Homo sapiens: one gene and its partner. The protein of the gene in region 1 interacts with the protein of each later gene in a biochemical or structural test. Each region holds a gene or a part of one and is shown in the gene's direction. Other genes may lie near its edges. The genes, in order: METTL22 and KIN.

What was found.
Region 2: of the proteins of METTL22 (region 1) and KIN, one has a biochemical effect on the other in vitro, tested with the Homo sapiens proteins (2 studies listed by BioGRID).

Annotation. Positions count from the first base shown.
Region 1 is NC_000016.10:8,625,710-8,641,389, forward strand, and holds part of METTL22 (methyltransferase-like protein 22), read left to right. Parts: coding exon 1-89; intron 90-3,020; coding exon 3,021-3,401; intron 3,402-9,329; coding exon 9,330-9,370; intron 9,371-9,458; coding exon 9,459-9,603; intron 9,604-13,381; coding exon 13,382-13,453; intron 13,454-13,653; coding exon of another isoform or gene 13,654-13,712; exon of another isoform or gene 13,713-13,967; intron 13,968-15,421; coding exon 15,422-15,475; intron 15,476-15,680. UniProt on the Homo sapiens protein: Protein N-lysine methyltransferase. Trimethylates KIN at Lys-135 (in vitro).
Region 2 is NC_000010.11:7,741,782-7,756,993, reverse strand, and holds the end of KIN (DNA/RNA-binding protein KIN17), read left to right. Parts: exon of another isoform or gene 1-845; intron 846-851; coding exon 852-914; 3' UTR 915-6,032; downstream 6,033-15,212. Other genes in the region: ITIH2 (inter-alpha-trypsin inhibitor heavy chain H2 precursor), read right to left, coding at 7,660-7,807, 10,290-10,401, 12,031-12,203, 12,714-12,912, 13,735-13,848. UniProt on the Homo sapiens protein: Involved in DNA replication and the cellular response to DNA damage. May participate in DNA replication factories and create a bridge between DNA replication and repair mediated by high molecular weight complexes.

The DNA of each region.
Region 1 (15,680 bases):
TAGGAGCGACACTGTGCTGTCAGATGTCCACCTCTATACCCCGAACCATAGACATCTCATGGTACGGCTGAACAGCGTGGGGCAGCCAGGTAAGGTCCTGGGCCCAGGTGCCCTGCGGATCCTATTTTGTTTTCTGCTTTCTCATACTCATCTTTTTGGGGAAAATATTGGGAAGACTGGATTACGTAACTGTTATCCTCAGACCACTTTTTAAGTGCCCTTTTTTTCTTTATGATTTTTTAAAAACCTTGTACTCTGCAATTTTTGTATGTGGGGGTTTGTTTTGCTTTTGTTTTTGCTTTTCTTAAAGACAATCTCACTCTGTCACCCAGTCTGGAGTGCAGTGGCACAGTCATGGCTCACTGCAGCCTCAAACTCCTGGACTCAAGTGATCTTCCTTCCCCTGCCTCCAGAGTAGCTGAGACTACAGGCTCACATCACCACACCTGGCTGGTTTTTATTTTGTAGAGCTGGAGTCTTGCTAGCCCAGGCTGGTTTTGAACTCCAGGCCTGAAGCAACCCTCCCACCTTAGCCTCTTGAGTCCCTGGGATTACAGGCAAGCTGCTGTCCCCCCACTTTCATTAAGCAAACTCCTGTGGTTTCCTGAGCACCTATTGTGCGCCTGACCCAGGACTTGATGCTGGGAATGCAGATACGAATGAGCCAAACTTTGCCGTCAGCAAGCCCAGGGTCCACTGGGGAGACAAAGTGCTGGGGCTCCATCTGTCCTCTGCTCTTTTTTTTTTTTTTTTTTTTGAGACGGAAGCTCGCTCTGTCACCCAGGGGGCAGTGCAGTGGCGCGACCTCGGCTCACTGCAACCTCCGCCTCCCGGGTTCAAGCAACTCTCCTGCCTCAGCCTCCCGAGTAGCTGGGATTACCGGCACCTGCCACCACGCCCAGCTAATTTTTGTATTTTTAGTACAGACAGAGTTTCACCATGTTGGTCAGGCTGGTCTTGAACTTCTGACCTCAGGTGATCCTCCCACCCCGGCCTCCCAAAGTGCTGGGATTACGGGCATGAACCACCGCATCCAACCCTGTCCTCTACTCTTTTTTTTTTTTTTTTTTTTTTTGAGGCAGTCTCGCTCCCTCACCCAGGCTGGAGTGCAGTGGCATGCGATCTCGGCTCACTGCAAGCTCCGCCTCCCGGGTTCACGCCATTCTCCTGCCTCAGCCTCCCAAGTAGCTGGGACTACAGGCACCCGCCACCACGCCTGGCTAATTTTTTTGTATTTTTGGTAGACACAGGGTTTCACCGTGTTAACCAGAATGGTCTTGATCTCCTGACCTCGTGCCGCCCGCCTCGGCCTCCCAAAGTGTCCTCTGCTCTTTATCCCCACTCCCTTTACCCTAGTCCAGCCACCTCTGTTGCTTGCCTGGCTGCCTCTGTCTTCTCCCACTGAGTTCACTGCTGCACACCCTCCCCGCTTATCTCTGCAGCAGCCAAGGACGTCTTTTGAAAATGCAGATCAAATCACAGCACTTCCTGAGTTAGACCTCCAGTGGCTTTCCGTTGCTCTCAGAATAACATCCAGGTTCCTCAGCTTGGTCTGTGAGGCCAGCCTGACCCAGCCTCTGCTTGTGTGCCTACCCTTATGTCACTCTCTCTTGCTCTTCTGTGGCCACTCTCAGGTTCTTTCTGTCCCTCAAACACAGGGAGGGGAGAGAAGCAACCATAAGATACAAGGCCAGGGAGAAAACACCTGCTTTCCTCCCCTCCTGGCTCCTCAAGTATCATCTCCACAGACAGCCCCTCCCTGGCCACCCTCCCTAACCCCAACTACCCTGTATTAGCTTGTTATGGTGTGATTATTAATAATTCCCATTGACCTCCTGCCCTAATTTGGATGGTACATTATACCAGGGGTATACAAACTGCAGCCTGTGAGCCAAATCTGGCCTGCAGCTATTTTTATAAAGAGTTTTATGAAGCCACAGCCATGCCCAGTCATTAACGTGTTTTTACAGCTGTTTTTGTGCTATAACGGCAGAGTTGAGGAGTTGCAACAAAGATCACAGGGCCCACAAAGCTTGAAAATAGATACATTTTATGAGACAGGGTCTCATTCTGTCACCCAAGCTGGAGTGCGGTGGTGCAGTCTTGACTCACTACAGCCTCGACCTCCCCAGGCTCAGGTGATCCTCCCATCTCAGCCTCCCAAGTAGCTGGGACTATAGGCACATGCCACCATACCTGGATAATTTTTTTGTAGAGAAGGGGATTTACCATGTTGCCCAGGCTGGTCAAATTCCTGGGCTCAAGAAATCTTCCTGTCTTGGCCTCCCAAAGTGCTGGAATTACAGGTGTAAGCCACCATGCCCAGCCAAAAAACTTTTTTATCTAACCTGTTACAGGAAAAGTTTGCTCACCCCTGCCTTATGTGGTTGCCACATCTGTGTCACACAGAATGCAGTTTTACTATATTCCTGGTAATTAACACAGCCTGTAATTATCTTGTTTACTTGCTTAATGTTTCTTCCCCAACTTCACTCCTAAAATGTAAGGCCCTAACATACCAAATCCTGCTTTGTACCCCCAGCACCTGGCATGGTACTTGGCACACAGTGTTCGGTGATGAATGAATGGATGATCGGACAGATTCAAAAACTGGCATAAACCCGGGATGCTGTGTGAGCTTAGAGGAGAGGCCCCTGAGCTCATTCCTAAAAGTTGTGTGGCCTTGGTCAGCTTAGTCCTCTAAGCCTCAGTTTCTGGGTCTGTAAGATGAAGCTGATAATGGTATCTTCACAGCAATTGTGGAGATTGAATGAGCTGATATGAGCCAAGTGCCTCATAGATTCTCATGAAATGGCGGCTGCTCTTGGTGGTGGCCCCAGCCTCCTGGCTGGTGGTGGTCACAGCTGAATCAAGTGGGCCTTTTCTGCTGGCATTAGTATATCTCTACCTGGCCTTTAAAAATCTTTCCTATTGGTAATCAGATATTCTCAAAGAAGAAGAGGAAGGTAAAAAAGAAAACATCTTGGAATTCTCATTTTGCGTTCTGTCTTGCCTTTCAGTTTTCCTGTCCCAATTCAAGCTTCTATGGAGCCAAGACTCTTGGACAGATTCAGGAGCCAAGGGTGGCAGTCACAGAGATGTTCACACAAAGGAGCCTCCTTCTGCTGAGACAGGCAGCACAGGGTCCCCTCCAGGAAGTGGCCATGGTAATGAGGGTTTCTCCCTCCAGGCCGGGACTGACACCACTGGCCAGGAAGTGGCTGAAGCTCAGCTGGATGAGGATGGGGATTTGGACGTGGTGAGAAGACCACGAGCCGCCTCTGATTCCAACCCAGCAGGGCCTCTGAGAGACAAGGTACATCCCATGATTCTAGCACAGGAAGAAGACGACGTCCTGGGAGAGGAAGCACAAGGCAGCCCGCACGATATCATCAGAATAGGTAAATAGAGGTGTGATGTGGCCCACCTGTCACCAAGGCAACTCCGCAGTGTCACTGCTCAGGGCTCAGTATGATCTGAGCGTGGACTCTGCAGGCCCAGGCAGCACAGGTTATGAGAACCAGCTCGGGTGAGACTGGGGAAGCTCTCCACAACCCCGTCACTCCTGCCCGGCTCACACCACCACAGCCTCACCCTGTGCGCTTTCTTCTCTGTGCTGTGCCTCCTTGCTGGAGTGCTTGCTCCCAGCCTCTGCTCCCTTAACATGTTCCCCATTGCCGTACAGTTTCCAGCTCAGCCACACCTCCTCCAGGAAGCCTCCCTGCTGCTGCCTCCCACATCTGTGCTCTTGCTCTAACTCAGCGTGTTGGGGGTGTGGGACAGGCTTGGCCTGGCTGGGCTGGCAGTAGGGAGCCATGGGAGGTTCTGGAGCTGGAGTGTGGCAGAGGGAGAGGGATGTAAATGAAAATGAATGGGGCGTGGACCAGTCAGATGGACTGGGAGCTGGGAGCTAGAAGCCAGGTAAGAAAGGGGAGTGATGAAGTGGCGGGAAAAGTGGGACAGGAGAGAGGTTTGGACAGATACTCAGAGGTGGGATCAAAGAGGAACTGCTACCCAGGTATGGGGGCAGAGCAGAGGGGTTTGCTGACTCTAGGATTTGAAATCTAGGGACCTGGCACTCTAGAAACACCGGGAGCAGTAGGGAGCTGGGCCAGGAAGTGATCGGTCCTGGTTAAGCACCTATCGTGTTTTGGATATCTTCACTAGTATCGAGTGGCCTAGTCTGCACAACCCCTCCTGAGGGGGTGCATGGATGAGGAAGTGAAAGGCCTAGCGCCATGCTGCTTGGTGGTGGTGAGCGAGCTTCGAATCCACACAGTGTCCACACCAGGGCTTTGCCTCCCCCTGGCGCTGCTCATTTGGGGAGCGGAGCTGTGATTTGAGGCCGTTCATTGAGATCCAGGGTCCCCGATGGTGTCTTGAGTTCCCAGGGAAAGGCCTCCCCCAGCACTGGCCTTTGGTCAGAGAATGGGGGTCAGTGGGTCACTCTCAAAAACAGACAAAACAGCAGCTCTGTATCTATCTGCTCAGCAAACAGTTACTAAGCGCCTCCACGGTGGTACCAAGCAGCCTCTGTTCTAGACTGTCCCAGAGAGGGCAACGTGGAACTCATACCAGAACCCAGTTCCATGTATCCCATGGGTGACCTCTGCCCTCATGGCCTCTGCAGATAGGGATGAGTATTCCCATTTCACAGAGGAAGAGACTGAGGCTCAGCGAGGTTGAGGAACTTGCTGGGGTCACACAGCTAGTCAGTGGCAGAGCTGAGACTTGTACCTAGGTCTGTCTGACGCCACAGCCTGTGCTGTCATTCCACATCATGGGGGCAGAGCTTTCGAAAGAGGCTTGGAAAGTCCTGCTTCTCAGGGGGGCCGACGATGGCTCATTTCCCTCTGAGCCCTCACTGTTATTAGCCTCCCCAAGCTGGGGAGCAAACCTGTCAGTTACTCCACAGTGAATTGTTGTGTCTGTAGTGAATGTTCTGGGAATTTACCATTGTATGAGCTAAGAACAAAGTCCCTCGGGAAGAGGCTGGCCTGTGACCAGCTTCCCCTCCTGCCCTGTTCCGGTGACCTCACGGTGAGGCCCCCTTGTCTGTATACCTGGAAGTTCACTTTTTCAGCTGTCAGTCACTCACTACCTGCCCTGACGGAGGAGAGTGGAATGGTAGCTAATGCATGAACCTAGGTAGTAATTCGTGATTATTTCAAACTGGCTAGAGCACTTTCATCTGCAAAACTTGATCTAATCCTGCAGGGCTGGATTTTGAGCCCAGCTCCATCTTCACAAGCCAGGTGACCAGAGACAAATGTCTTACCCACTCAGAACCACATGGTCAGAACCACGTGATCAGGGGAACCACTGTCCCTGGGTTTTAGTGATAATTTATTGAAACATGCCCAGTGAGCGCCAGGAGCAGGGCCTGGCGCAGAGTTGATGGTAAGCAGACGTCATTCGCCTCACAACCCTTTTCCTCTGACCCGTAAATCAACCCATTTTTTTCAAGTTATAGACCCATTTGAGAAACTGGTTTTTCTAAAGAAAAAGAAAAATAGGTGTTTTCTTAACTATTCCAAGGGATTGACAAAACCTTAAAAAGTTTATCCAGGGATCTGCCAGGAATCCACAGACCCAGGATTCAAAAGAAATTATGTTCAATTCCCCCACTGTAGAAATAAAGTGAGACCCCAAGAGAACTCGAGAAAGGCAGGGCTGGAACTCAGGCCGTCAGATTCTGAGTCCCGTGCCTTCCTGCTGGAGAATCGGGCAAGTCGCTTAGCCTCTCTGAGTTCAGTTTCCTTGTCTGTACAAGGGGTACAACCTCCTCCAGTTGTAAGGAATTCAGAGAGACAGCACATACAAAGCTCTTAGCGTAATGCCTGGCACGGATTCAGTGTTCCGTAAATGTAAGCCTCTGTCCTGGGGACTGGCCCAAGCTGGGAGGAGGGAGACTGGCTGACGAACAGTCTAGGTTCCTGCAGGTCTAGAGACCCAGTTTGCAAATGAGATAAGACGTAATTCTAGAATCTGATAAGGACAGGTGAGATTCTAACACTGTCTCATCCCATTGCTAGCCCTAGAGTTTCTCATGGGGATAGTTCCTCAGGCTGGTCTTTTATGTTCTCATGATACCTTTGGGATTATTTAAATATAAACTCTGACTTTTCACAGGAGTGGGAGCCCCAAGATGGCCCTGGGTAGGGAGGTCCCTAAGTCACCTGGGCCTCCACCCCTAGACTGAATCCTTCTTCCTCACCCCTATGCAGCCACCTGGACCGCGCCCGGCCCAGGGCTGACATACTGGGCATTTGTTGTGATCTCTGACTATCCTGATGAGTCATGAAGAAGCATATTTACCCATTCGAACACTAGCAAGTGCCTGAAACGGGGCAGGGGTCGGGTAGACCTCGGAATCTCTGCACTCCGGAGTCGAGGATGTCAGACACAAGAAAGGAGAGTGCCCTTAAGGTCGGCCACACTCAGCTTCCTGGGGAATTCATTCTGGCTTTTTCCATCTGGCCCCAGGGAGTTGCACAGCATCCGCTTCTTCCTTTGATCCATCCCTGAGCCTCTTGTTCTCTCCCTTATCAATTCGCCCTGGTGTTTTCTCGTGTTATCAGCATCAGCAGAAAGCACATCTTAGATCAGTTCTTGGTCAGACTCCCAAATGACTTCATTTTAAATCCTCTTTTGTTTCTATTTGGCTTTAGAAAAATATGGGTCTCACTTTGCACTTCGTTACCCAGGCTGGTCTCAAACTCCTGGCTTCAGGCGATCCTCCTGCTTTAGCCTTCCAAAGTGCTGGGATTATAGGTGTGAGCCACTACCCGGCCATCTCGACACATTTTGATCTAATTAGATGTTTTTTTCTCAGACTATGACCCTGGGCTGGTCATGTCCCCCTTCTGGGCTTCAGTGATCTCCACCTGTGCAAGGGCTGGGGTCCTTGACCACCTCAATGGTTCTCAGATGTCTGCCGAGCCTGTGCTCTCTCAGAAGCGCTGTCTGGTTAAACACTGTTACAGCCTTAGAAATGAGGGATGAGGCTACTTCTGCATTTTGCAAAAGAGGAAACTGTAGCTCTGTCTCCAAGAAGTTAAGTGACTTGTCACCCAGCTAGGAAATGACAAAACTGGGTTGTCATACAGGTCTCTGACCTCAGAGTCCTCATTCTCCCTCAAGGGAAGCTAGCCACCCATTGAGGACAGCTGGGAGGCAGAACTTACGTCCACGAGACCCCTGGAAGGAAGTGACCAATCACATAGGACCAAGATCACTATGAGAAGGTTCCCCTGGCAGCAGGAACCCTTAGGACAGCTGGGGTTAGGGAGCAGATGGCAAGGAGGAAGCTTTCCCAGGCCAATGGAGGGAGAGGAGAGGAGAGGAGGCTACGAGCCACACCCAGGAGATGGCATGGGTGGGACTGGGGAAGAGGAACTGGGCAGGGACGCTGACACAGAGGGCCTGGGGTCTGTAGACCACAGACACCCCTTCCCCTCCACGCACAAGCACACAAGCCTTCAGCCTGCCCAGCGAGTCCCTGTCCCTTTCATCCTGGGAGGCTCTGCCCCAGGCTTTTTAAACCGTGTCCCTGGCATGGTTCAGATTCTACATCTCCCTTCCCCAAGCAGGCTGAAGAGCTAGAAAAGGCCGGGCACGGTGGCTCACACCTATGATCCCACTTTGGGAGGCCAAAGCAGTGTATCACTTGAGCCCAAGGGTTTGAAACCAGCCCTGGCAACATGCTGAGACCCTATCTCTACAAAAACTACAAAACTAAAAAAATTTAGCCTGGCATGGAGGCATGCACCTGTAGCCCCAGCTACTCGAGAGGCTTAGGTGGCAGGGTCACTTGAGCCTGGGAGGTGGAGGCTGCAGTGAGCCTTGGCCGTGCCACCACACTCCAGCGTAGATGACAGAGTGAGACCCTGTCTCAAAACAGAAAGAGACAGAAAACTGCAGATGACCTGACTTGGAACCCCGCATCTGCCACTCACCCTCTCTGTGACCACAGCCTGCTAACCTCACCCAGCCACCTTTTCCTCATCCAATAATACTCGAAGCTGTCATTGGGTGATTTTGAGGATTAAATGAGAAAGCATTTAGCCCAGTGCCTCATGCAGAGAAGGTGCTTTTTTTTCTATTAACTTTACAAACAGTAATGCTGAACCTTAGTCAGTGTCTTTCTCTGTAATATACATGTGAGCCAATCAGGTAGAATCTCAGTGGCACCCAGGGCTTGCTCACAGAATGTGTCTGTCTAGTGAATGTTGGTTCAGTGAAGGAACTTTGCATCAGGTGGTTCGGCAGGTGTATTTCTGTTCCAGTTTCAAACCAGGTGACTACGTGTTAGGACGTAGCAATCTGAAGCCCTTCTGAAAGGAACATGTTTTATTAAAAGTGCCTTGTAAGCCACCATGTCAAATCTAGCCAAGATGCTGGTGGACAACCCATTAGTCACTTTATTCAGAGATCAGATTCTAACTGCCCATAGGGCTGAAATCTTTGGCCAGATTTTCCCAGGAGGAGCCCTCAGAGAACAGTGGCCCAGGTGCCCAAGAGGACCCTACACAGTCGATTTCTTTCCTGGTTCGGGGACAGACAGAGCGATTGGCGATAGCTGTTACCATCTCACTTAAAAATACTTGAGCAAGTTATTTTCCCTCCTCGGGAGCTCTTAGACAAGCAAGTTCTTACTTAACAACAAAAAATGCTTTGCTTCATTCCTTTTCTCCTTGATCTTATATTTCCATTGTGTTCCCCCCTCCACCAGAATTTGATCCTATTAGGGTATATTATAAATACAAAATATATTATATTTTGCACTTGAGAATACTTATACTACTTTTCAACGTTTTTAAAAAGGATGTAAATTTAAACTTATTTTTTTGTTAACTTCTAATGTAGATTTCTAAGTATGAGAAAATAATGAAGTTAAGTATGTTTCTCAGTATAAGAAAATACTTTTGAATGAATTGTGATTATTAGTAGTATATAAATTAATATATTATGATTGTAACTTTGCAATTATTGGTCATGAAAAAAGTAGTGCACTGCATGTGGGTGCAATTAAATTGCGTGAAAACCTAATTGTGACCCTCCCTAGCCTTGGGCTGTAGGGCAGAGATACCCAGTTACATGAAAGAGTGTGAGCCCCATTCCAAAAAGCTCCCATCCTCTGAGTGGTGCTCAAAAGTCGCCTCCTAACCAGTAGCACAGCCTGTGTTTCTGCTGCTCTCTAGAACGCCTCATTCCAACCTCTGACGCCCATCTGACCGTGCTGGCGGTTGCCACACTGTCCTGTCTTGTGGTTTTCTGTCCATCCCCATTTCACAGTGGGCATTTCTCTTGGTTTCTGTCCCATCCAGAGCACACCATGGCCACGCCCCTGGAGGATGTTGGCAAGCAGGTGGGTAGGTCTTGTCCGCTTCCTGTGGCCCTGATGGGTCCCTGCAGAGCCTCACGCTGCTTGTCGCTCCTTGTCCTCTTCCCTCCAGGTGTGGCGGGGCGCCCTGCTCCTGGCAGACTACATCCTGTTCCGACAGGACCTCTTCCGAGGATGTACAGCGCTGGAGCTCGGGGCCGGCACGGGGCTCGCTAGCATCATCGCAGCCACCATGGCACGGACCGTTTATTGTACAGGTAATGAGGTGACATCTCAGGCTGCAGGGAAGTAGTCACCTTCACAAAGCATGCACTGACTGTATAAAAAAAGAGGCAGAGGCACTGGAAATTGGATGTTAGCTGTTGTTGATTTTGCCATCCTGGTCCCCTGGCCCTCTCCACTCTCCATTTATTCTCAGTGACATCAAAATGACCCAGCAATACCCACTCAGCAGCAGCAGCGTCACCCAGTGGCTATAAGGCCATTGAGCTTCAGGAGGTGCCTAGCGCCCCTGCTGGTACCTCTCTCCCCACTCCTGAGAAAGAGCAAATATCTCCAAAAACAGGAGGAATATACCCTTTTAGAAGCCTTTGAAAGCAAGTTTATTATTTTTTTCCTGGGTATAGAAGCCTTGCCCATTCTTTGTAGGAGGTTTTTAAAACAGTACATAAAAATTACTCATAATTTTACAATCCCTAGATTGAATCAACAATATGCAACTTATGGGTCACCTCCCGTGTGCCACTCATTTCTAGATGTAGGAGGCCCTGCGGTGAATGGAGCTGACTAGGCACTGCCCTCAGGGCGCTTACGTTGTAAGAATCTCCTCCAAATGATAGCTGAAATCAAGCTGCAGCAGCACTGTATTCTGCTGAAAATGTTGAAAAACATTTTTAAGAGCATTTTCTTTTTTAAATATGTATATATTTAGGGGGTACAAGTGCGGGTTTCTGATGTGCAGCTATATTGCAGTGATGACATCCGTCTGGGCTTTTAGTGGACCTTCCACTCAAATAGTGAACATTGTACCCAATAGGGAAGCTTTAATCCCCCACCCCTCCCACCGTGTCACCTTCTGGAATCCCCAGTGTCTGTGTTTCCACTCAGTATGTCCATGTTTACCCGTTGTTTAGCTCCCACTCATAAGTGAGAACATTTTAAGAGCATTTTCTCATGCCATTAAAAAATTATTATATAGGCCAGGTGCGGTGGCTGACATCTGTAATCCCAGCCCTTTGGGAGGCTGAGGCAGGCAGATCACCTGAGGTCAGGAGTTTGAGAACAGCCAGGCCAACATGGTGAAACCCTGTCTGTACTAAAAATACAAGAATTAACCAGATGTGGTAGCGGCGGGCACCTGTAATCCCAGCTACTTGGGAGGCTTGAACCTGGGAGGCAGAGGTTGCAGTGAGCTGAGATTGCACCACTGCACTCCAGTCTGGGCCACAGAGTGAGACTCTGTCTCAAAAAAAAAAAAAAAAAAACAAACTTTATATATGACTTTTAATGACCAGATAATATTTCATCTTCTTTGTAACCCTTCTCCTATTGCTGAGCATTTTGGCCATTCCTATGGGTTTTGGTTTTTTGGTTTTTGTTTTTTTTTGCATTTGTCAGTTACACTGTGATGAACATCTTTGTATATTGTCTAATAATCTGTCACCTAGGTTCCTAGGAGTGGGCGGTGTTAGTTACATTGCAATGAACATCTTTGTGTATCGTTGTCTAATAACGTGTCACTAGGTTCCTAGAAGTGGGTGAGACTATTCTTAAGCTTTTGATGAACATTACCAACTAATTTCTTTTTTAGTATTTAATTTTGAAATAATTTCAGACTCAAAAGGAGTTGTTAAAATAATCCAGCAAGTGCCATATGCCCTTCCTCTGGCTCCCCAGTGGTGACATCACACACAACCATAGTACAGTGATGAAAACCAGCCAGTGAAGTTAACTAAACTCCTAACGTGCCAGAGTGCTTTCTTTAGAACAAATATACCTGTTTACAAGAGAGTAGTGATCTCGTCAAGTGAACCTTGTTGTTATATTTTAAATCTTTAGTATCTGCTGGACAAAAAGAGGTATCAGCTGATGTGGTTTACACCTCATTGCTTCCTAGTGAACGTTACCTGGCACAGACTTTTGTTTCTGAGATAGGAAGGAAGAAGCTAGAGATCACCAGTCCCTGAGGCACTGTTTTCAAATATGCTGTTAACCACTGGTCAGGAGTCTGCAGTGCAGCCACGCTATTGGCTGCTTCTTGACAATGTCATGTAAATTATCAGTGAGCTCTTCTCAGAGTCAAGCCGTCCAAGAGCTTTGCTTCGTCCCTGGTGCCTAATAGCAGACTATAAAGAAGTCTTATCCCTGAGAGAGATTTACCAGCATGGGGAAGAAAGCTTGCATTTAGATGCCATGTTCCAGTTGGAAAAGTCCTTTCAGATGCATCAGTGCCTGGCTGTAACTTCACAGTGACTCTGGGCAGAGCCCAGGGTTCCTATCTCTGTTGTCCAAATGGGCAGACTGAGGCTGGCCCAAGGTCATCCACAGCTGCTGATGAGACCCGAGGCCCTTGATGTGGACCTGCTGGCCCACAGGGCAGTGTGCTTGTCACGTGGTGGAATTTCAGATTGTGTTGCATGGAACAGAGCTCCCACAAGCTGGCCGAGGGATGCTGGGGAGAACGCACTCAGGGCACCAGGGCTCCTACCCCACTCAGCCAGAGCTGCTCCTCTCTTACCTGTTTTATAGGTTAAAAGCTTTTGACAGAAACTATCATAAAGGTTTAAAAACTGCTGACCCTGGCCAGGCGTGGTGGCTAATGCATGTAACCCCAGCACTTTGAGAGGCCGAGGCAGGTGGATCACCTGAGGTCAGGAGTTTGAGAGCAGCTTGGCCAACACGGTGAAACCCCATCTGTACTAAAAATACAAAAAAAAAAAAAATTAGCCAGGCATGGTGGCGTGTGCCTATAATCCCAGCTACTTGGGAGGCTGAGGCAGGAGAATTGCTTGAACCTGGGAAGTGGAGGTTGCAGTGAGCCAAGGTTGCACCACTGTACTTCAGTTGGTCAACAAGTGCGAAACTCCGTTTCCAAAAAACTGCTAAGCCCATCGTGTGCTGTCAGGTACATATCATCAGTATTCTCTTGGCCTAGGAGATAGGGTAGATCCCTCCCTTCTGCAAGCAGGGAGCTCCTCCCGTACATGGCTCTGTGTGACCCCTGGGGTGCAGATGTTAGTCCCAGGGAGATTGCACTGTGGGTCCACGCCCACAGTGGACCAAGCAAATGTCATTAACAAGACATCCTGTACTTTCTACATGCACATTCTTCTAATTAGAAGTTTATTTTTGGTAAAGCACTGCTTCTGCCAGTGAGGATTCACTGTACCCCAAGTTAGTTCTTGAAATGATGAGAAATCCCACTTGTCAGAGTAGCAGGCGGCTGGGAGGGAGATCTGGGTGGCAGCAAAGTGAATCGCGCTCAAGAGAGTGGGCTCAGCCTGTTTGAATCTGCTCTGTGTTCTGACGAATCATAAGAAAAAATCCTTCTGACCGGAAAACTGGTCCAGTCAGTTTTCCTAGGGTGTCAAAGAACGAGCCTAAATTTGGAGTTAGAAAAACCTGGATCAAATCCCAACTCTTGCTCTCAATAGCTGCATGACTTTGCTCAAGTCACTTAATCCGTGAAATGGGATTCATGATCCCAGCTCCTGTGTGGCCATAAACATGAAAACGATGAACTAGGGAAGTGCACGCGTGTTGCATGTGCTCGGATGATGTTGGGAGCTCACACTCCTTCCCTCTGGAATGCGCACTGTCTCTCCCCATCAGGAGGAGAATCTCTTATTTAGGGAACAAGCCAATGAAAAGAGCCTTAAGGTGAGGGTATTTAATTTTGGCAGTAAGACACATAGGAGAAACGTTTCTCTAATTTCTGCAGTTGTGCTGTTGATCACAGCTCTCTCTAGGCAAAAAACATGGAGATAAAAGTGTCGTAGTGGCTGGCACTTTATGGCTTGCCCTCTGTCATTCCAGATGTCGGTGCAGATCTCTTGTCCATGTGCCAGCGAAACATTGCCCTCAACAGCCACCTGGCTGCCACTGGAGGTGAGGCCCAGGGGGTCTTCTGCCAGGGAGGGAGGTTTCTCTGTTTAGCAGATAGGACAGACACCCAAGACCATGACATTGGGAGGCAGGGCTCCGTCTGTGTCCCTTGCAGCAGGTGAGTAAGGGGAGCAGGCGTCGTCTGGGCATCACAGAGCTTCAGAGCATTGAGGACGCTCCTTGGGTCACCTCCTCATTCCCAGATCCACTGCGTCATCCTACTCCAGCTCTTTCTCTCCCGGACACTGGCGGCGGCCCCTGAGCTGGTCTCCCCAGCTCCTTAGTTGACCCGTCCAAGATGTCCTCATGAAACATCCAGAGTGCCCTTTCTCAGATGCAAGCCAGTCCACTTCACTTGCTGCTGAAAACCTCCCAGGGGCGTCATCACCTGTGGGGTGAAGTCTGAGCTCCTTGAATTCCCAGGCCTCCCTGGCCCAGCCCCGGCCTGCTCTCCTTGCCTCCTCCTGACAGTCTCCTTTCCAGCCCTGCATCCAGCACGGCCAGGACTCACTCACAGGCCAGTCCCCCTGCGCAGATGGGCCTCCGCCTCCATCTGCCTGGTTCTCTGCTCCCTGCACGGCCTGCAGGGATGAGTGTATGTGATGGGTGACGACAGTTATGTCCTAACGCCTCCTCCGAGCAGCCCCCCAGGCTTCAGGCCCTTCAGTGGTTTACTGTTGCTTGTCTCATGTTCTTGGGGATCTGGCCCCTGTCTGTCTGCAGCGCCCCCCACCACCAACAGCCGACCTCACCGTCTTTCAAATCACATTCCCTCGAGTCCTTTGCCCTTGCTCTTCCCTCTGCCTGAGTGCTCTGCCGTCCCTCCTCCCGGCAAGTCCTCATCACCCTCGGGGCTTCAGACCTCCAGATTTGAGGCCAGAGCCCCCAACAGACTCCAGGCACACGTTGCATGATTGCATTTTACCATCTGCTCGTGTGACTAGTTATTGGTGTTTTCCATTCCCACCGGACTACAAGCTCTGTGGGTGCAGGTACCCTGTCTGCATTTGCTCTGCACTGTCACAATGTTTGTTGAGTGCTCAGGGTACAGTAGGCAGTCAGCAGAGCTGGGAGGATGGAGGGAGCATGCTGGTGGAAGCCTTCCCTGACATCCGCTGTCTGACATGAGTTCCTCTCTCTCCTCCTGTGCGTTTGCCTCATCCTTCTGGCATCACCCAGCCACACAGTCTTGCCGTTGTTGGTTAACCTGCCAGTCTCTCCTAGGGGAGCTGGTCTGCAAGGATGGGGAGCATGACTCTTAAATCTTTATTTTCCCTATGTCTGGCACCGTCCCTGACACGTAGCACTCAAAAAATGCTGGAAGAATGGACGGATGGATGGAGGGAAGGGACAGAAAATGGATGATGGATGAGGAGGGAAGGAGGATAATAAGGATGGGTGGGTGGATGGGTGGGAGGGCAGAAGGATGGATAGATGGGTAGATGAGAGGATGGATGGATGGATGGATGGAAAGATGGGTGGATGGGAGGGAGGGAGGGAAGGAAGATGGGTGGGTGGATGGATGGATGGATAGATGGAAGGGCAGGAAGATGGGTGGGGGGGTGGGTGGATGGATGGATGGATCGATGGATGGCTAGAAGGAAGGATGAGAAGATGGATGGGAGGGAGGCAGGGAGGGAAGGAAGATAGGTGGGTGGGTGGGTGGGTAGATGGATGGATGGATGGATGGATAGAAGGAAGGGCCGGAAGATGGGCAGGTGGGTGGGTGGGTGAATGGATGGATGGATGGATGGATGGATGGATGGATGGATGGATGGATGGATGGGTGGGTGGATGGCTGGCTGGCTGGCTGGCTGGCTGGCTGTAAAGATGGAAGGGCAGGAAGGTGGATGGGTGAGAGCAAGGGTGGGTGGGTGGATAGATGGATCTTCATATATAGTGTAAAAGTTTATCTTTTTTTCCTGATGATGTTTAGAGTTTGGAAAGTTCTCTTTTTGTTTGTTTTTACAGGTGGTATAGTTAGGGTCAAAGAACTGGACTGGCTGAAGGACGACCTCTGCACAGGTGTGTGTTTCTCTCGGACGTCCCCCAGTATGATTCAGTGATTCCTTTGTAATACCTCAGTGCCCCTGGCTCTGTGGTTTTGACAGAGCTGTAGTCCCAGCTGCTGCCACAGTCCCATCGGCGCATGGCAGCTTCTCTCCATTGGCCGATGAGCACCAGCTGTCATTCTCTGAGCGCCTGCTGCATGCTGGGCACCTCACGTTCA
Region 2 (15,212 bases), on another chromosome or scaffold:
ATTTGAACTTGGGGAGTGTAGGTTCACAGCCCATATTCTTAGCCTCTGTGTTCCCAGGTTATATCCGCTTTTGTGATAGAAAATATCTTTCATTAATTAAGTTTTCCTCTTTCCCTTTTTGTTCGATATGAAAGAAGAAAATAAAGTTAAAGTTGGACTCTTTTTATAATCTGGACCAGTGTAACTATCACAGCCAACCTAGACAAACATGTTTGAGTATCGTAATGCTTACAAAATGATATTTCCTATAAAAAAAAGAAAACCCCAAATGGACAATGGCACAAACATGGTAGAAGTTAACGTTTCACTCTAAAAACCCCAAATGGGTATTTTTGATCAGGGAACTCTTTCTAAGTGGCGATTTGTGAACCCAGGGTCCTTCCAGCTAGTGCCTCTACTGCCCTCAAGTGGCATCTCCAGTTGCCATGTCTGTGTGCACTGGGCAGGCAAAAGGAGCTTGGCAGATTGTGTGTCAGTTATAGCACGTCTGGACCGTCACTTCTGTTTGCTTTCATGGGCTGGAGCTCCATGCATGGCCACAGCTAACCACAAGGGAGCCAGGAAACTGGCTATTTATCCAGGAAGCAGAGGAGATACTGAACAGCTTGCAGGTCTCTGCCACAATGTCTATTGATAACGTATGTCAGATGTCACAGAAGAAAATATGGTAGTTCTTAATGAGAATGCCATAGATTATTCTTAAAATTCATAGATGTATACAAATGTTAACAATCTTAATGGTATTTTAGGGATGCGGAAAAGGCAAATTTGTATCCATAAGTATGGTGTCATTTTTTTGTCTTTTAGGAATATGTGTTTTTAACCTTATTTTAAATTATTTTAATTTGTAGGGCCCTTTAAAAGGACGCAGAGTTGAAGGAATTCAATATGAAGACATTTCTAAACTTGCCTGAGTTTGAAAATTTGTTAACAATACATTAAAATCTTAAAGCATCAAATTGGTGTTCGCCAAGGCATTATGAGACTCTACTGTGTTAGGGTATATTCTTTTGTATAAAACAAACAGGTTTTTGAAAATATTACTGTATAGTTGTTCAGCTAAACTTTGAGAAGAATTTAATTATGTCTCATGAGGTATCAAACTATGTAATTTTGTCCTTGTTATTTTTGTTTCCTTTGTAATTTACTTGATGAGTTTATATCTTCATTAAAGAATGTTATTATAAAGTGTTTTATCTATGACAATTTAGAATCATGTAATTGGAGGAAATCCTTCATACACTCTATATTTTCAGTAGTAGAGTAGTAAAGTTGAACTCTAAGTGTGACTAAATTTTAAATGTCAAACTATAAATATAGAAGCAGCTTTATTGTGGTAATAATTCATATACCATACAGTTCACTCATTTAAAATATACATACAATTCAGTGGTTTTTAGTATTTTTGCAGAATTGTGCAGCCATCACCACTGTCTGATTTTAAAACACTTTCATACCCCAAAATGAAACCCTTTAATAGTCAATCGCTATTTTTCCCCTCTGCCCTAGCCCTAGACAGCCACTAATGTACTTTCTGTCTCTATGGATTTGCCCTTTCTGGACATTTCTTATAAATGGAATCATATAATATGTGATCTTTTATGACTGGCTTCTTACACTTAGCATCATGTTTTCAAGGTTTATCCATGCAGTAGCATGTAGGCGTGCTTCATTTGTTTTTATGGCTGCTTAATATTCCACTGTATGGATGTACCGTATTTTGTTTGTCCATTCATCAGCTGATAAACATTTAGATTGTTTCTACTTTTTGGCTATTGTGAATAATGCTGCCATGATCACCCATTTACAGGATTTTATGTGAACAGAAGCTTTCGCTTCTGCCAAACTCTTCCAGAGCAGCTATACCATTTTACAGTCCTACCAGCAATGTTGAACTATAGTTTTATTTGTTTTTAATTTTTTTACTTTTAGAGACATGGTCTCACTGTGTTGCCCAGGCTGCTGTCAAACTCCTGGGCTCAAGTGATCCTCCTGCCTCAGCCTCCCAAAGTGCTAGGATTGCAGGTGTGAGCCACAGCACCCTGCCTAACCATACAGTTTGAAATAAGTAGGGCAGTGTATTATTAGGGAATGCAAAAGACAGGAAACCCACATTTGCCTGTGCCAAAGGAAAAACGAAGGGATATTTGTAGTGCACATGACTGAAAGGAGCAGACGCTAGCTTCCAGGGCAGCGGGACCGGGTGTGAACAGCCTTCCCTGGGCTTCCGCTCTGTCTCTGGCTCCTGTGCTGGCTCTCTACATTTACATTCTTGAGCACTCTAGGTTTACATCTTACCCTTCAGCAGCACCGGGAAGAGAGAGATGATCTATCTTTTCTTTTTCTTTTTTTTTTTTTTTCTGACACAGAGTCTCACTCTGTCACCCAGGCTGATTGCAGTAGTGCAATCTCGGCTCACTGCAACCTCCACCTCCCGGGTTCAAGCCATTCTCCTGCCTCAGCCTCCTGAGTAGCTGGGACTACAGGCATGCGCCACCACGCCCAGCTAATTTTTGTAATTTTAGAAGAGATGAGGTTTCACCATGTTGGCCAGGATGGTCTCGATCTCTTGACCTTATGATCTGCCCGCCTCAGCCTCCCAAAGTGCTGGGATTACAGGCATGAGCCACTACGCCTCTTTTTTTTTGTTCTGTTTTTTGAGATAGGGTCTTGCTCTGTCATCCAGCCTGGAGTGCAGTGGCACAATCATGGCTCACTGCAGCCTCGTCCTCCTGGGCTTAGGTCATTGATTCTCCCACCTCAGCCTCCCGAGTAGCTGGGACTACAGGCATGCACTACCATGCCTGGCTAATTTTTTTGATTTTTAGTAGAGATGAGGTCTTGCTATGTTGCCCAGGCTGGTCTCAAACTCTTGAGCTCAAGCAATCCTCCTGCCTCGGCCTTCTAAAATGTTGTGATTACAGGTGTGAGCTACCACGCCTTGCCTGAGTTGATCTTCTACAAGAGTTCAAACAAAAAACAGACCATACCAGGATGATCACTTCAAACATGAGGATGGGTATAAGCTGACGTCAGACACAGGTATGGTGCCAAACCCTGGGATCTCTCTCTTTAACTGAGAGTCAGGGAGGGCTGATTGCTTCTATTCTCAGAAGATGGGAGAACGTATGCTGTTAGCAGAAATGTAAGAGGCAGTAAAGAAATACTAATAGGATGATGGCAGAAGCTTTACAGAAAATGTTCCTCAGGGATGAATTAAGGTTTTTCCAAAGTAACCTGACAGCACATTATGGAAAGCAACTGGGTTTTGGGTGTGGGCAGTCTTTAGATCAAATTCTGGCAGTTCTGTTCATTGGCTTTGTAATATTAGAATGTTAATGTTCTTGAATTGCAATGTTTTTAATGTATAAATTGTCAAAATGTTTTTCAGCAGGGTTGATGGGAGACCTACAGAAAATACATATAAATCATCAGACATGAAGTCCAGCACATAGTAGGTATTGAATAAATGGCAGTGAGTGGTCATGTCCAGAAATGAAGCCAAGAAGTTGAGCCTGGACTACTAAGAATCTGGTCTGAAGAATTTCAAAAAGGAGAATGGTTCTCCCTGATAACAAATAGTGATGAGTAAAACCAGACAAATTACATATGCCTCCCCCAAGTATGTACGTTTGGAATCAACTTGGTGGTTTTCTTCAGAGAAAAAATGTTTCATGTCTGCCTCCCACATTTAATTCTCCAACGTCTTTCTGAAATTATTTCAGAATGAAATGAGGCAGCATACTTGAGGTTAAATTCAATAAAAAATATCTGAAGCATAAAAATACGATTATAGACTTCACAGTAGTTTTTTCCCTCTGAGTCTGTAGAACTTGATAGAGTTTATGCTAAGCAAAATGACTGCAGATAACTAACAACAGGTCTCATATTAGACTTTGATTTTTGAAGTATCATAAGCTATTTTTCTTTATTTCAAACATAGACTTTACTTTTTAGAGCAGTCTCTGTGGGTTTTGACAAATGTATAATGACATGCATCTGCCACTGTAGTATCACACAGAACAGTTTCACTGCCCTAGAAGTTTCCTGTGTTCTGTCTGTTCCCTGTCTCCCCCCAAATCCCTGCTGACCGCTGATCTTTTTACTGTCTCCCTAGTTTTGTCTCCATCGAAGGTCATATAGTTGGAGTCACACAGGGTGTAGCTTTTTCAGATTGGCTTCTTTCACCTGGTAGAACATATGCATGTAAGGTTCCTCCATGTTGTTTTGGTTAGGTTTTTGTGGCTCGATAGCGCACTTCATTTTAGCACTGCATATTCTATTGTCTGAATGCACCACAGTTTATGCACTCACCTACTGAAGGATATCTTGGTTGCTTACAAGGTTTGGAAATTATGAGTAAAGCTGCTACAAACATCTGTGCGCAGGTTTTTTGTGGATAGACGTTTTCAACTTATTTACGTAACGACCAAAGAGCACAATTGCTGGATCATATGCCAGGAGTCTTCTGAGAAACTACCAACCTGTCTTCCAGAGTGACTGTACCATTTTGTATTCAAACGAGCAGTGAATGAGAGTTCCTGCTGCTCTGCATCTCCGTCAGCATTTGATGTTGTCAGTGTTCTGGATTTTGGCCATCTTAATAGCTGTACAGTGGGATCTTGTCATTGCTTTAATTTGCATTTCTTTGATGAAGTATGATGTGGAGCATCTTTTCATGGGCTTATTTGCCACCTGTATATCTTCTCTGGTGAGATGTCTTTCAGGTTTTTTGCCCATTATTTAATTGGGTTACTCATTTTCTTATTGTTGAATTTTAAGAGTTGTTTGTATATTTCAGTTGTGTTCTTTATCGAATGTGTCTTTTGCAAGTATTTTCTCTCAGTCAGTGGCCTGTCTTCTCATTTTGTTTTAAGCTATTCTTTTTTAACACCCCAAGATTTTCATCGTTACTTTTTTTTTTTTTTTTTTTTTTTTTTTTTTTTTTTTTTGAGACGGAGTCTCGCTCTGTCGCCCAGGCCGGACTGCGGACTGCAGTGGCGCAATCTCGGCTCACTGCAAGCTCCGCTTCCCGGGTTCACGCCATTCTCCTGCCTCAGCCTCCCGAGTAGCTGGGACTACAGGCGCCCGCCACCGCGCCCGGCTAATTTTTTGTATTTTTAGTACATCGTTACTTTTAAGACCACTGTGCACACATAAAATACTAAAAGCTAAACTTAATATCTGCAGGTAGAAGTTTTAAATTCAAGATTTTAACCAAATAACAGAGTTAATGCTAAAATCTCACTTTTGAAGTTTATGTTGAATATTAGCATTCTAATATTTAATATTTTTCTATTTTTGAAATAGGAAATGGAAAAGATGCAGTAGGTTTTTCAAAAGGGTATCATAGGTGAGCACTTCTTATAGAAGAAGAAAACTAAGAGGTAGTGCTATTTACCTCTTCAGCACTAAGTTTATCTTTATTTTTATTTATTTCTATAAAGAGATGGGAGTCTCACTGTGTTGCTTAGGCTGGTCTTGAACTCCTGGCCTCCAGTGATGCTCCTGCCTTGGCCTCCGAGAGTGCTGGGATTATAGGCATGAGGCACCACACCCAGCCAGTAATCTTTAGCTTCTAGAAACAATCAGATTTCCTTAAGATTTTGCAATTAGGTTTAGAGGAGCTCACTTGCTTTTTCAAATATGGGTTGGATATGTCCAAAAAAAGAGTTTTGCCTCTACAATGAAAAATGATTTTTACCAGATTATGGAAAGGAAGATTCATAAAAATGTGCCTTTAAAAAGCTTTTTTAAAGTGCAAGTTCACCAATTTGACTTTTGAAAATACGTTCATTTTAGGAATTGATTTTTTAAGGAAAGTTGTAAACACAGCAAAGCACAGAATTACACTGGTTCAGACTTGCATCTTAGCACCAAAATCCACTATACAAATGCAGACAGCATAAAGTAACCTAGTTTCGCTTTAAATTTGTTGCTTATTTTATTCTCCCTTATAAATGTCATTGGTCTTTTGTTAGAACATAATTTACTACTTTATTTTGAAATAAAGTCTAAGATTTAGCATGTAAGTGGTATTACTCAGAAATGGTTTAAATGCAAATGAAATAACAGTTCTACCAGGAGTACTAAAAAAGATGCTGTGTTCAAGGTATATTAAATTTGTGTGAAACTTGATTCACAGACACAGAGGGCTTCCAGAGAATTTGGAACTATGATTCAGAATTCATTTAGCAACATTAACAATGTGTATAATTAGCCATCTGAGGTAACATCCTGAGCGATTTTAAATATGTGCAGAATTTGGGAGCAACAAAAACTCCAAGTAGGGCTGGGCATGGTGGCTCACGCCTGTAATCCCAGCTACTTGGGAGGCTGAGGCAGGAGGATCGCTTGAACCCGGGAGGTGGAGGTTGCAGTGAGCCGAGATTGTGCCACTGTGCTCCAGCCTGGGCAACAAAGGGAGACCCCATCTCAAGAAAAAAAAAAAAGTAAAGCAAATCACCCTCCCTTGTGTGGGTGGGCCTCGTCTAATAGTCAAAGGCCTGAATAGAACAAAAATGCTGACTTCCCAAAGTCGGGGGATTCTCTAGTGTACGGCCTTCGAACTTCATCTGCAGCATCAGCTCTTCCTGCCTGATGGCTTTTGAGCTGGAACACTGGCTCCTCCCTAGTTCTCCTGTACCATCAGCCTACTCTGCAGATTTTGGATTTACAAGCCTCCATAATCACATGAGCCAATCCTTATTGTAAATCTCCTATGGGTTCTGTTTTCCTGGAGAACTATGGCTAATCCAGGCCTCATAAACTCAAAAGGGACCCAGGGACCAACACTATGAAGAGAATCTTGGCTAAAAATACTGGGCTATCACAGGCACCATAGCAAGGCTATCCTTGCTTTAGTATAAATCTCTACAGAGGGTAACAGGGCTTTAGTATAAATCTCTACGAAGCACCTAAGATCAAGTAACCCCCATTTCTTGTTCTATGCTCACCATATAACCCTCTCATAATTGTACTTCCCATGTAACTAGCAGTGTAAAAATGGACGCGATCTGCAAGGTTGAGGACCTGAGACTCAACAGCAGTGAAATGATCAGCTGGGCATGGTGGCTCACACCTGTAATCCCAGCACTTTGGACGGCTGAGGCGGGAGAATCACTTGAGCCCAGGAGTTTGAGACCAGCCTGGGCACCATAGTGAGACCTCATCTCTGCAAAAAACAAAAATTAGCCAGGCATAGTGACATGCGACTGTAGTCCCAGCTGCTAGGGAGGTTGAAGTGGGTGGATTGCTTGTGCCCAGCTTGAGGCTGAAGTGAGCCATGATCACGCCACTGCACTCCAACCTGGGCAACAGAGCGAGACCCTGTCTCAAAAAAAAGAAAGAAAAGATATTAATAAATGATCACAGTAAACACCAAATTTAAGGCTCTTCCAGACGCTGGCTTGTCTCGGCACCACCTTGATCCACACACTTCGGCATCTAAAAATGCAACAAAATCCTAAAAGCTCATTTGTAAAATGTTTATTTTCTTAGGTGTGTTTACAGGCTTTATAAACCACCCTGATATCTGGTTCATTTTAATTAACCACCCTGATATCTGGTTCATTTTAATTATTCAAACCGAAGAATATCTGCAAAAGTGACAGGGGAAAGATGTATATTAATATATATAATTTCCCAAACTATAAACCTTTAAGGCCGTTTGAGAAAGCTGTAGAGCTGAGGCACGAAGTAATCCTTGTAATGCCCGTCAATGAATCCTTTTCCACTGTTGTGCACAAACCAGCAGGTAACGTCCGTTCCAAACACTAGATCCGTTCTGTAGTCTTTCTGTAAGCCCCTGCAAGGAAGCAAGGCATGTGGTTAGGGGGAGACTGAGCACCTCTAGACACAAGACTCCCTCTTTTCCTTGCTGTTCTTCGTGTTCCTTCTGTCACCACATCTGCCGCCCCCCACCTATCGCTGCTCCCCAAGTCATGTGAAAAAGAAACACCAAGTCTGGGGCTTGGTGTTGGAAGCACAGAGAATCAGCGAAGCGTCCTTGGAGAACTCAAAGAACCCTTAGAGTTGACCTATATGGGCTTTTCCAGCGAGGGAAACAGTAGCCAATGGAAAGAAGGCAGGAACAAGACTCCACAGTGTTGAGGCTGACCTCACAGGTCACTTAAAGAATGAGTCAGCAGCCAGGCATGGTGGCTCACGCCTGTAATCTCAGCGCTTTGGGAGGCTGAGGTGGGCGGACCACTTGAGGCCAGGAGTTCAAGACCAGCCTGGCCAACATGGTGAAACCCTGTCTCTACTAAAAATTAAAAGAAAAATTACCTGGGCATGGTGGTGTACGCCTGTAGTCCCAGCTACTTGGGAGGCTGAGGCAAGAGAATTGCTTGAACCCAGGAGGTGGAGGTTGCAGTGAGCCCAAGATACGTCACTGCACTCCAGCCTGGGCGACAGAGCAAGACTCTGTCACTAAAAAAAAAAAAAAAAAAAAAAAAAAAAAAAAAAAAAGAATGCATTGGCGGCACCTCTTAACTGCACTTTCTCTGTGTTTAAGAGTGATACCTGCTGTTTCTGAGCAGATTCATGTCCTCCACTTGAAGGGCAAAGTAGCCAACAATTTGTTAAGGATCTCGTTCACACTGCGTGAACGAGACTTAAAAGTATCACTGTGCCCAGCCCACGGGACAGCTCAGTTTCAGTTATGAACCATGAGGTGCTTGCAGTGGACCAAATCGAGGCCCAGCATTTACTTTTTGTCATTATAGTAAATATATATATATATGTATACATATATTTATTTATATATGTATATATAAATATATATACATATTTTATGAGATGGAGTCAGGCTGGAGTGCAGTGGTGCTATCTCTGCTCACTGCAACCTCTGCCTTCCGGGTTCAAGTGATTATCCTACCTCAGCCTCCCGAGTAGCTGGGAATACAGGCGCCCGCCACCACACCCGGCTAATTTTTGTATTTTTAGTAGAGATGGGGGGGGTTTCAACATGTTGGCAAGTTGGTCTTGAACTCCTGACCTCAGGTTATCCACCCACCCAGGCCTTGCAAAGTGCTGGGATTACAGGCGTGAGCCACTGCGCCTGGCCTATTTATATATTATGTATTTATTTATGAGACAGGTCTCTCTCTGTTACCCAAGCTGGAGTGCAGAGGCACAATCATAAGTCACTTCATCCTCGAACTCCTGGGTTCAACGGATCCTCCCACCTCAGCCTCCTGAGTAGCTGGGGCTATAGGCAGAATCTACTACACCTGGATAATTATTTTTATATTTATTTTTATTTTTGTAGAGATGGAGTCTTACTATGTTGCCCAGGCTGGTCTTGAACTCCTGGTCTCAGGTGATCCTCCCACATTGGCCTCTCAAAGCATTGGGATTACAGGCATGAGCCACCATGCCTGGCAGTAAATGCCCTTCTACCAACTTCAGATAACTTACTATTAACATTAATAATTTGTGCTCACCATTGCTTCTGTGACACATGCTCACTGATTCCCGTCGGTACCTCATTCCTCCCATAAACTGATACTAATTGAATGGCATATTCACTAAGAATCCATTGTTTCAGTTCACAAATCTACTTTCGTGGCAATACTTCCGACTACAATTTTATGTTACAATGTTATGGTTTAATTAAGTATGTCAAAGCCAATGACATTTGTGGGCGTGAAGAATCCTTTCTAATAAAGCAAAGTTGGCTGCTTTGTAAAAACTCTAAAAAGGGGTAAGCTGCTTTAAAACGGTATCAAATTTGGCATGGGTGAGACAACTGTAAAGGACTGGGAAAAAATATCAAGATTTGTAAGACTTTTACACTCAGAATGCGTTATGAGCGTCTAAGTTCTCACTTCAGATGAAGCATATGGGGGTGGTTTGTGTAAGAAAAGCTACAAAAAAAGCAGTCAGAGATCCCTGTGCAAAAGGAAAACTCTAGCCTGATGTAAAAATCTACATTCATTCTGCAGCACTATGGTAATAGGTGTTTTATGATTCTCTCCTTTGATCAACGTGTCTGGTTATCCAACTTGTGAAGCTCTTGTGAGGGCTTCTAAAGTATGAAGATGAGAACAACAGGTTAGTTAATCTTGGCATTGCATGACCCTAGATACCCAGTCATTATTTGCATTTAACGTGGGATATCAGAAGTGTCCTTATGCGAATGCTGTGTGCGTCTATTCCTAATGAACTGCTTAGTGTGATGTAGGTAGTGCCTACGACACTTCTTCTTTGCTCCTCTATTTTGCTGTGTGGGTCTAATTCTAACACAAGGCCTTTTCGTCACTGTCCTTACGCCCGAGGCCTACCTGGTGATGATCAGCTTCTGCCCCTTCACTTCCATGCTGGCCTCTGGCTTCTCAGGGTCCTTTCCTGGTCTCTCATTGAAGATGTGTATCTTTGGTTCCTGCATGAACTGGCCTAGCAAAACAGAATCAGACATTGATTGACATGTAATCATAGTTAAATAAAAAGAGGCTCATTATTGACTCCATGCTACCTTTCGGTCCTCCCTCCAGGATTTCTAGGGTGGAAAGACAAGCTGAGAGGAAAAAGGAGTGGTGATGGGAGGGAGGGTCCTTCCTGGGAGCACATTTGTGCTGCTCACCATCTTTTTTTTATTTTTATTTTTTTAATTTGAGGCAGGATCTCCCTCTGTTGCCCAGGCTGGAGTGCAGTGGTGCTATCTCGGCTCACTGCAACCTCCACCTCCTGGGCTCAAGTGTTCTTCCCACCTCAGCCTCCCAAGTAGCTGGGACCACAGGCGTGAGCCACTACGCCTGGCTAATTTTTTGTAGAGACAGGGTTTCACCGTGTTGCACAGGTTGATCTTGAACTCCTGGACTCAAGCGATCCACCCACCTCAGCCTCCCAAAGTGCTGGGATTACAGGTGTGAGCCACTACTCACAGCCTTTTTTTTTTTTTTTTTTTTTTTTTTTTTTTTAAATTTAAGATTTGGGGCCGGGTGTGGTGGCTCACACCTGTAATCCCAGCACTTTGGGAGGCCGAGGTGGGCAGATCACCTGAGGTTGGGAGTTTGAGACCAGCCTGACCAACATGGAGAAACCCCATCTCTACTAAAAATACAAAATTAGCTGGGCGTGGTGGTGCATGCCTGTAATCCCAGCTACTCGGGAGGCTGAGGGAAGAGAATCGCATGAACCGGGGAGGCAGCGGTTGCGGTGAGCCGAGATTGCGCCACTGCGCTCCAGCCTGGGCAACAAGAGAGAAACTCCATCTCATAAATTAATGAATTAATTAATTTAAGAGATGGAGTCTCCCTCTGTCACCCAGGCTGGAGCACAGTGGCACAGTCATAGCTCACTGCAGCCTCCAATTCCGGGGCTCAAGAGATCCCACCTCAGCTTCCTGAGTAGCTGGGACTCCAGGCAGGCTCCACCATACCCTGCTAATTATTTTTATTTTCTAATTTTTTGGTAGAGATGGGGTGCCCAGGCTGCCCTTGAACTCCACAAGCAAATCCACCTGCCCAGGCCTCCTAAAGTGCTGGGATTACAGGCACGAGCCACCATGCCTGGAGCTCATGGTCATTTTATACATGAGGTTGGTCTAGTGGATTGTAAGTAAATCGAGCACCCTGATGGCAGGAGAATGAGGTGAGCACCTGAGAGTATAGCTCAGATCACAGGAAAAAGTTTTGTTTGTGATGTCACAGGCTTTATATTTGAGCCCTTCTTAAAATACTAGGGACATTTGTCCAGAGTGTTCTGCTTGTTATCACAGACCTCCTAAATGGGTTCATCTTGCTTCAGTTAGAAAAAAATCTTTAACATAAAACTTAAAATGTATCTGTCCCTTCTCTTAACTTGCCCAGTTTGTGATGCTGAAATCCTGGCCCTGGACAACCTTGTCTGGAATGGCAAAAGGTCCTGGCTGTCACATTCCCGAGCGACCCCACACTGCTATGTTAGTCCTCTGTGCTCATGAGTCCACACCTGCCATGTCCTCAACTTGTAACCACTGTCAACCAAAGCTGCTAAAGAATTAGAGCGGCCCCACCCTTGTCAGATGGTCAATAGACACTTTACCTATTAGTCCGTGGGCTTTAGGTGAGAACTTGTTTGTAGGGGGTATGTAGATTCCCAGAAAGTCAACATTGACGGGATGCTTCTTCCAAACACGATGAAGTAAAACAGAAAAGGACATCTCTTTATCCAGGGTGATAGTTACCACTTTTTCTTTCTTCACTGAGATCTGCACCCTGGTGTGAAAGTCCAAGAGGAATTAAACCATTCCAGAACAGACCTTTTGAGAAAGTCATTCTTCTCACCCCTAATATGAACTCTTCACTCCTCCCAGACAATTCCGCTAGTTATCTAAGCGCTTGCAACAGTTTATAGATAAATGATGGATTAACAGAAACTCATTGGGAAGCTTCTACGCAGAGGACACAATCATGGCGTTTGGAGCTCACTCTGCGATAGAGTCAGTATGGATTTCAGCTGGTGGATTTGTTCACTGATTAGCACATACACAGTGAGTGTTTACTGATGCCAGGCACTGGACTAGGTCCTGGGACCCAACGGTGACCAAAAACACACAGTGCCCACTGCCAGGAACAGAGTAGGGAGTGAGAACAATTTTTCTGAACCTCAACTTCCTTATATTTAAAATGATGATTTTTTTTCAATGTTGATGTCACTGATGCCTGGATTTATTTATGCAGTCGTGTGTCACGGACAGGCCCAAGTTCAGATGGAATCATACTTGCCTCTGATTCGTGACTTGAGCCGTGTCGGACCAGGACAAGGAGAATGTGCTAGAACCATGGCTCAGGGTGATGGTCTCAGTGCTGATTTCTATTTTTATGTCTTCACTTTGGAAATAAAATCCCAGTTTTCCAAAATAGGTGCTTAGTTTTCCATTGTTGGGCTTCTTGGCACCAACAAGCTGACCGTTGACTACAATTCCTACAGGAAAGAAAAAAATGATGTTTTCTCTTCTGTGCCATTTATTTTGCATGTGTGGGTACTATAATTCAAATTTATAAAAACTTGGCAATATTGGAAAATTATTATAATTTTGCTTCAAGATTTACATTAACATTTTCTTCTTTGTGATTCTCATTTTATAACATGTTAATATAACATTTATAAATTTTAATAAAATTTAATTTAATAATTTTATATCAGTTATAAAATTTAATTGTCAGTTTATAAAATTTAAATAATTGACTATCATATAGTATTTAAATTTTTTGTTGTTGTTTTTGAGACGGAGTCTTACTCTGTCACTCAGGCTGGAGCGCAATGGTGTGATCTTGGCTCACTGCAACCTCCACCTCCCGGGTTCAAGCAATTCTCCTGCCTCAGCCTCCTGAGTAGCTGGGATTACAGGTGTGTACCACCACGCCTGGGTAATTGTTTTTGTATTTTTAGTAGTGGGGGGTGGGGTTTCATCATTTTGACCAGGCTGGTCTCGAACTCTTGACCTCAGATGATCCGCCCACCTCGGCCTCCCAAAGTGCTGGGATTGCATGTGTAAGCCACCGTTCCTGGCTCATATTTAAATTAATTATATCACAACAAGATCTGCAAGTTCATACTCAGAGTATATATTTTGAACTATAATGGTTCAAAATAGTTAAGAATATATTTATAATTTAATTTCTCACTAATATCACTGAAATATATAGAACTTCTATTAAGCTGAGAAAGAAAGAAATCCCAGGCAGTGACAGGAAAGCATGACAATGACCTAATTGGTGCAAATATAATTTATTTTTATTTTACCTGATTCTGGGTCAGAAACCAGGTTGAGGATTTTTCCAGGTTCTGAGTCAATATTGAAACAAATGTTCTTTTGGCTTTTTGGTAGATAAATGATGAAATGTGGGTCATTTTCAACTGGAAAATATACAAAGAAAACGTAAACAAAATCATTAAAAGGAAGATGATTTTGAGCACTATGTCATTCCTGAACATCTTTAATTTAATCAGAACAAATATTTATTGTGCTTCTCCTACATGCTCGGTACTCCTCCAGGTCTTGGGGACCCAGTGGTTCATACTCCATTGTCCCTTTGTCACGGAGCCTTCTTCAGAACCCTATGTTATTTTACAAATATAGTGGATATTTATTTTGTAGCTAAAAATGTATGCACTAGACTAGATACTAGAGATAAAAAATGAATAAGAAAGACTTAAGGAATAAGAAATACACACAAATATGCACCCACAAATATAAGAAACATACATACACGTGTGTGAATATGTGTGTAGACAGAAAAATAGAGTTGGGTGTTTTTTGAGACAGGATCTCCCTCTGTCACCCAGGCTGGAGTGCAATGTTGCAATCATGGCTCACTGCAGCCTTGACCTCCAAGGCTCAAGTCATCCTCCCAGCTCAGCCTCCTGAGTAGCTGGGGCAACATCCATGTGCCACCATGTCTAGCTAATGTTTTGTATTTTTTGTAGAGATGGGGGGTCTCACTTTGTTTCCCAGGCTAGTGTCAAACTCCTGAACTCAAGTGATCCACCCATCTCAGCCTCTCAAAGTCCTGGGATTAAAGGTGTGAGCCGCCTCACCCAGCCTGGAGATATATTTTTTAAGGAGCCATATACAATGCAGGAAAACAAAGGAGACACACTATTATTGTTGACATACAGATTAATATGATTCAATTCCAAAAGCAATGAAGAATCAAGCTACTCCCAAGAAAGTACTCCTTTGTTATTGAACCTAATTATTTTAGATAATCCTTCCTTGCTTCCCCTCCCCTCCCGCTCCCCCATCCCCACTCTCCCTCTCCCGCTCTTTCCCATTTAACCATTCAACAAATACTTGGTGAAGGAAAAAAAAAATCTATGTGCAATCACTAAATTTGGCAATGTTTGGTGTTAACTATAAACATAAGTCATGGTCAGTAACTTCAAGAAAGTAATACTTTAGTGCAAGGGGCAGACATAATCACGAATGTAAGATAGAATGAAGTACATGGTGCAATAGTGGCTCAAGTAAAATGCTGTGAGAATGAAGATGAAAATGATTAGTGCCCCCCAGGCAAACAGCAAGGCTGAATGGAGGAGGTGGCTTCTGAACTGTCTTTAAGGTCAGAGGACAGCGGGGAAAGACAAAAGGCTAAGGAGGAAGAGATTTTATTCTGAGTGTACAGAATGAGGAAGGAGTGGAGGTAGAAGAGTTTATGATTTCTTTAGAAAATAACTCAATGCGACCAGAGGACAGGTTCTTGAAGAATGCAGAGAAAAAG